2 separate regions of the Homo sapiens genome follow, and region 2 is linked to region 1. Evidence: fine-mapped QTL for protein levels in blood plasma. A gene starts in region 1. The other region holds a variant in brackets. All regions are shown on one strand. Distances are from middle to middle.

Region 1 (2,918 bases):
GAAATAAAGCAGGCTCTTGCTTAAAGTTACCAGAGCATCCACCTCTGGGTGCAAAGACAAATTCTCTGAATCAAGTGAGGGGTCTGGGCAATGATCTCACAAGGATTTGATACCTAGGAGTCCCCCCATGCCCATACAAGCTCCTCATCTTTCCACTTACACTTTGGGAAGCTGGCTGTCGTGTACAGGCAGATGAAGCTGGAAAAGAGAGGCATATTCAGTACTCACGAATTCAAACAGCTTGAGGGATTTCCGGTGAAAGTCAGTCCTAACCAGTGTATACGTACATACACACCAACATGTGTGAATGTGTTGTGTGCACGTGTGTGCCTGTACAAGTCCACATGGCATATTTACCTGTCAGGGACAGGCTATGGACAATGACTGTTTCTTGGACTTTCTCTTAAAAAGTCAGATCAGACAAGTTTATTTTGTATACTTTGGGTAAATGTGTGGTATTTCGTGAGTTTGGCAGTTTGTGAAAAAAAAAAAAAAAAAAAAAAAAAAAAAAAGCTGCCTGCTCTGAGCCCATGGGGCAGGGGCAATTTTTTCATCTGACAATCTGCGTGCTTTTGTTTTGCTTGCTTATTTTGGCCCCACAATACCACACCCTTTTCTTAACTAACCTCTTTCTACCTGGGCTGGACGTGCCTGGGCTCTCCTCCCTGGCCCCGCTCCCACCTCTCCCAGGTCTCTAAACCCCTAGAGAACCTGTGTCAGTGTTTTGAATCCCTCAGTTGCTCTAGCAGGAAAACTAGACAGATTAGGAGCTGGGGCACATTTGGCTGAAAGACAGCTCTTCGCTTTCTTCTTATGCTGCTTCCCCTTCCTCTTTTCCCAAATAGATATATAAACACATGTATTTTCCTGTTTAAATTGAGCGAATTGGTCCCCTGCCTGTGCCTTGATTTAGCCATTGGGCTCAGCCTTGCTCCTCCCTTCCTTACTCGGATAGGAGCCACTGGGATCTGGAGCTCCAGCTTCCAAATTGAAGCTGGCCTCAGGCCAGGTGACCTTTTCTTTGTAAGTTTCTTTCCTAAGCGTGGGGTTGGGGGGAGGCGGGGAATGGGGGGGGTTGCAGGGATCTGTTTGGTGCTGTTGAAGGGGGGGCGAGTGAGGAAAGGAGGGGGCTGGAAGAGAGTAAAGGGCTGTTGTTAAACAGTTTCTTACCGTAAGAGGGAGTTCAGACCTAGATCTTTCCAGTTAATCACACAACAAACTTAGCTCATCGCAATAAAAAGCAGCTCAGAGCCGACTGGCTCTTTTAGGCACTGACTCCGAACAGGATTCTTTCACCCAGGCATCTCCTCCAGAGGGATCCGCCAGCCCGTCCAGCAGCACCATGTGGGTGACCAAACTCCTGCCAGCCCTGCTGCTGCAGCATGTCCTCCTGCATCTCCTCCTGCTCCCCATCGCCATCCCCTATGCAGGTTAGTTCCCTTCTTCTTCTTCATTATTAGTATTAGTATTTAACTCTCCTGCTAACCTTCCCTATTCCTTTTAACACCCTCTTTTTACCCTATTCCCAGCATCCTTTCTGAACTCAGTATGTAGTATAGGTTTCTAAAAGCTCTCATTATGCTTTTTTTGACATTCTTTTTTGTTGTTGTTTGAATAGCATTTAAAATGATAATTAACTTTCCCTCAACTCCCCTCCACCTCCAACCCAAGCCCCGTCCCACTTAGCCTAATAGTTGTGGATTATGAGATAGGGAGGAAGTGCTAATACTGGCTGAACTTGGCTGCTTTGGACAAGTTTAAAGCTAAAGAGAGGGTCTGGTCTGAAGAGGCAAGAGTGATGGTCAGTCCGGCAGGAAGTCATCCTTTTCCAGAGAACAATTTTTCATGATAATGCACTACTCCACATCACCTAGTCAACATTTGGAGCCAAATTACGACTTTGTACAGGTTTTCATTTTGAGGAGGCAGAATAAACTCTGAGTATTTGCATATCATAAAAATGAAAGAGAAAGCCTCTTTTTAAAGATCTTATTCTTTCTGGGTACGGATGCCTGCCCTTTGAAACTGCAGTGCACGGAGACTTTGATTAAAGCTGCAGAACTGCCCATCTCTGTCTCCCACTTTCTCCCTTGGATTTGCCGTTTGGGGAGGAGTTGCTTGAAAGTTCATATTGCTTGGAGATTTAGAGATCTCGTTTGCTGCTCTGGGAAGTTTCTCTTGTTATCAGGGCAAGAGGAAACATCTGTATTTTGTTGTATCATTGTAGAGGCTGAGGTGCCAACGGGAGAAGGCAGTGAATATCAAGGGTAGGCGCAGGGGAATAAAAGAGTGGGAACAAATGCCCAGATGGAGACATGGCCTTTTTACAATATAAAAAAGAGAACTGGCTGTATCTTTTGAGATGGTAAATATGACATTTATCAGACCTTTGATCTAGTTTTTGATATGGTACAAGGGTTAAAAAACTCAAGAATTTTCTAAATGCAAAGGAAAATCATTCAACCCACCTGGTTTTCTTTTATTTTGTGAAGTGGCCCGTTTGGAAAATGACACTGTTTGGAAAGGGTCACTCTGAAAGCATTTAGGTAAGATTTCTGAAGAAGTGAAAAAGCAGTGAGTTCAAATCAAGCAGGTTATCATGCTTGACATGTGTCATGTTAAAATCGCTTCACAGGGTCGGGTGCGGTGGCTCACGCCTGTAATCCCAGCACTTTGGGAGGCCGAGGCGGGCAGATCACGAGGTCAGGAGATTGAGACCATCCTAGCTAACAAGGTGAAACCCTGTCTCTACTAAAAATACAAAAAATTAGCCAGGCGTGGTGGCAGGCACCTGTAGTCCCACCTACTTGGGAGGCTGAGGCAGGAGACTCTCTTGAACCTGGGAGGTGGGGGTTGCAGTGAGCCGAGATTGTGTCACCGCACTTCAGCCTGGGGAACGGAGCAAGACTCCATCTCAA
Region 2 (2,918 bases), 40 kb after region 1:
TTTGCACAGTACAACTTATTTCAGTAATTAGGGTAGTCATTAAGGTAATGTTTTCCCTTTCTTCACAAAGCTTCGTAGAATAACTCTAAACATAAGCTATTGTTTAGTTTGCCTAGGTTAGCTCATAGAATGCAATGAAATAAAGCATTCAACTAACTACATAAGGTAGAAATGGTTTGTATGAGAGAGGTGTTTAGATGAAATTTAAAAGCTATTAAAAATATTTACACTATTAACTATAGAAAACTTTCATAGGCATCCCTAGTCACTGAAAGCATGTCTAATTCTGGCCTGTCCTTCGTACAGTGGTACATCCAATTCCAAAATGGATAAATCAATGAAATTTACTCAAATCTTAAACTGTCCTAGAGGCTGCCAACTTGAGTTTCATCCAGAGGCATCTTGAATGGCCATTTAGATTGTAAAGGTAGCTGGGAAGTTTACACTTTTATCAAACCATAAACATTTTCATGTATGTTTTAAGAAGATATATGAATTTTAGTTGCTCTGGAATGTTTTGAGTTACATTTTGATTGACTAAACATTACAGAGAGAGAGAGAGACCAAATTGTGGTAAAAATTTAATTTTATACTTTTATTACTTAGTGACTGAGGGTTTCAAATCTTCATGACGTATAGTAAGCATTGAAGTTGGACTAGGAAAAAAAGCAGGAGATAGATCTTCCTAGGAATAACTGATTTTTTCTTTATTGTCAACAAGATGACTAAAAATATATTTAACATGTTAGCTTAGAATTTATTTATTTATTTAATTTATTTTTTGAGACAGACTTTCACTCTTCTTGCCCAGGCTGGAGTGCAATGGCACGATCTTGGCTCACTGCAACCTCCACTTCCTGAGTTCAAGCCGTTTTCCTGGCTCAGCCTCCCAAGTAGCTGGGATTACAGGCACCTGCCACCACCACTCCTGGCTAATTTTTTTTGTATTTTTAGTAGAGATGGGGTTTCACCATGTTGGCCAGGCTGGTCTTAAACTCCTGACCTCAGGTGATCCACCCACCTCAGCTTCCCAAAGTGCTGGGATTACAGGCATAAGCCACCATACCTGGCCAGAATATATGTATTATATTGGAGGAAAATTATGGTTAATTTCATTACCACTTTGTATGTACTTATAAGCAAGCTGATTTTAGAAATAATTGTATAGTCATTTCAGAAACACTATATATTCAGCATATATAAGTTATACATGTGGAGGTAAAATGCATTTAAGTAACTTTTCAAGAAAAAACTAATTTAGGATTTGAATGAAAGGAAAATTGGAATGAAGTTAGTAATAATGTTAAGTTAAATTTCTTATTCCACTCAATTATTATAAAAGCTTATAAGTAACAGAAAAAAAAATCTGCTAATACAAATGCCAATGAACTCTAAGAGGCAAATGACATCTTCAAAGATTTTATATAAGTTTTTTTTTGTTGTTGTTTTTTGCCAATAGCTGACAATACTATGAATGACACTGATGTTCCTTTGGAAACAACT[G/A]AATGCATCCAAGGTCAAGGAGAAGGCTACAGGGGCACTGTCAATACCATTTGGAATGGAATTCCATGTCAGCGTTGGGATTCTCAGTATCCTCACGAGCATGACATGACTCCTGAAAATTTCAAGTGCAAGTGAGTAAAGTAGGCAAATGTTATACATTTCAGTAGGCCCTGGGGAAAATGAGGTAGAGTGGTTACTTTTTACTAATTTTGTGTTAGTGATCAAACTTCAGCGTGCCCAGTGATAATCAGGAGTTAAAAGGCAGATTACACCTCCACTCAGAGATTTTGATTCTCTTAATCTGGGATTTGGTCCTCAAATATGCATTTCATTAAGGACCCTAGGTGGTTCAGATCCAGAGGGTAGATTCACTATGCTTTGGGAAACACATCCCTAGGTGGATTTCTGATCACAGTTTTGCTCTTCTGGGTCTGTTTAGTAAATCAGTTAATAGTCATGGCAGCCAGGCATGTTTCAAAATACTGCCTTCTTAAATTTTCGTATTAGCTTTGGGAGGATTACACATTTTTCCTTTCGAAAGAATGGAAAGAAAAGGCCTACCACTGAAGAGTTATTAGCCTTAAAGATCTGTGAATAAAATAATTTTTCAAAGCTTAAATGAATGTGTTCAGTTGTTTCTGGATTTGCTTTGAAAAGTGGGGAAGCAAATCAATTGTGTAGATGACTCAAGCCAAAGAAACTGCCCTTGAGTATCAATTACATAGTTGTTTTGTGCATTCTCTATGGGTACTTTTCACACCATTTGACTTTTGCAGACAGGCACAGACACAATGCCATGTGTTTTTAAATTGTCCACCTTGTTATGAGGAACATAAAGTGATTGCTTTTGAAATTAATAACACACATCATTCATAGTGGCTTTTCTGAAATAGCACCTATAAATAACATATATTGGCTTTATGTAATTGGCTTTTAATAAGACAGCCTAACATTTCTGAATGAAGAGCTATGAGCACTAGTTGGCCCATCCGCCATAGGAGAGGGGAGATTTGTGTTGTATGTGTGTGTGTGCATGCACAAGCTTTAGCTAGTTCTGTAATTTATTTGTTTAAATAGTAAATATTAATCTAAGATTTTTTCCCATTAGTTTACAATAACAAAATTGACAGTTGTCATGCTGGGTTTATTTCCCTCATTTCCATCACAGCAATTCACTCTCTATTCGTGACCCATGGGTTTCACACCTGAGAAATACATATCAAAGTAGAAAAAACAAAGAAACAGAGAAAATATTAGTTATAAGGGACAAAGGAGATAGTGTCACTGCCATTCACATTTTTGTTAACTTCTAATGACTAGTAATACCCAATAAGAAATTGTGTACGTAAAGATACCTAGTGAAATTCATCTGTAAGAAAAACAGAATGGATATAAACATTTAATTCACAGACTTC

Alleles and levels. Positions count from the first base shown, and alleles are read on the strand shown. Strength reflects both the effect of a copy and how common the allele is.
In carriers of allele A in region 2, the plasma level of the protein whose gene starts at base 1,267 in region 1 tends to be lower than with G alone (moderate association).

Evidence for each region. PIP is the posterior inclusion probability: the model's chance that the variant is causal. Protein levels are from antibody-based Olink assays in UK Biobank. Linkage for the fine-mapping came from a reference panel and not from the study's own genotypes, which makes the PIPs less certain.
Region 2: its variant is fine-mapped to the plasma level of the HGF protein (UK Biobank, PIP above 0.99). The variant lies in the coding sequence of HGF. If it changes the protein, the assay may bind it differently, which can mimic a change of level.

What each region holds. Positions count from the first base shown.
Region 1 is chr7:81,768,396-81,771,313 of GRCh38, reverse strand. HGF (hepatocyte growth factor) reads left to right here and starts at 1,267. Exons shown (of 18, transcript NM_000601.6): 1 at 1,267-1,430. The coding sequence starts at 1,343.
Region 2 is chr7:81,728,321-81,731,238 of GRCh38, reverse strand. HGF (hepatocyte growth factor) reads left to right here. Exons shown (of 18, transcript NM_000601.6): 8 at 1,460-1,634. Among named protein-coding and RNA genes, the nearest start is that of HGF, 40 kb to the left of the region's middle. The variant G/A (reference allele first, on the strand shown) is at 1,504.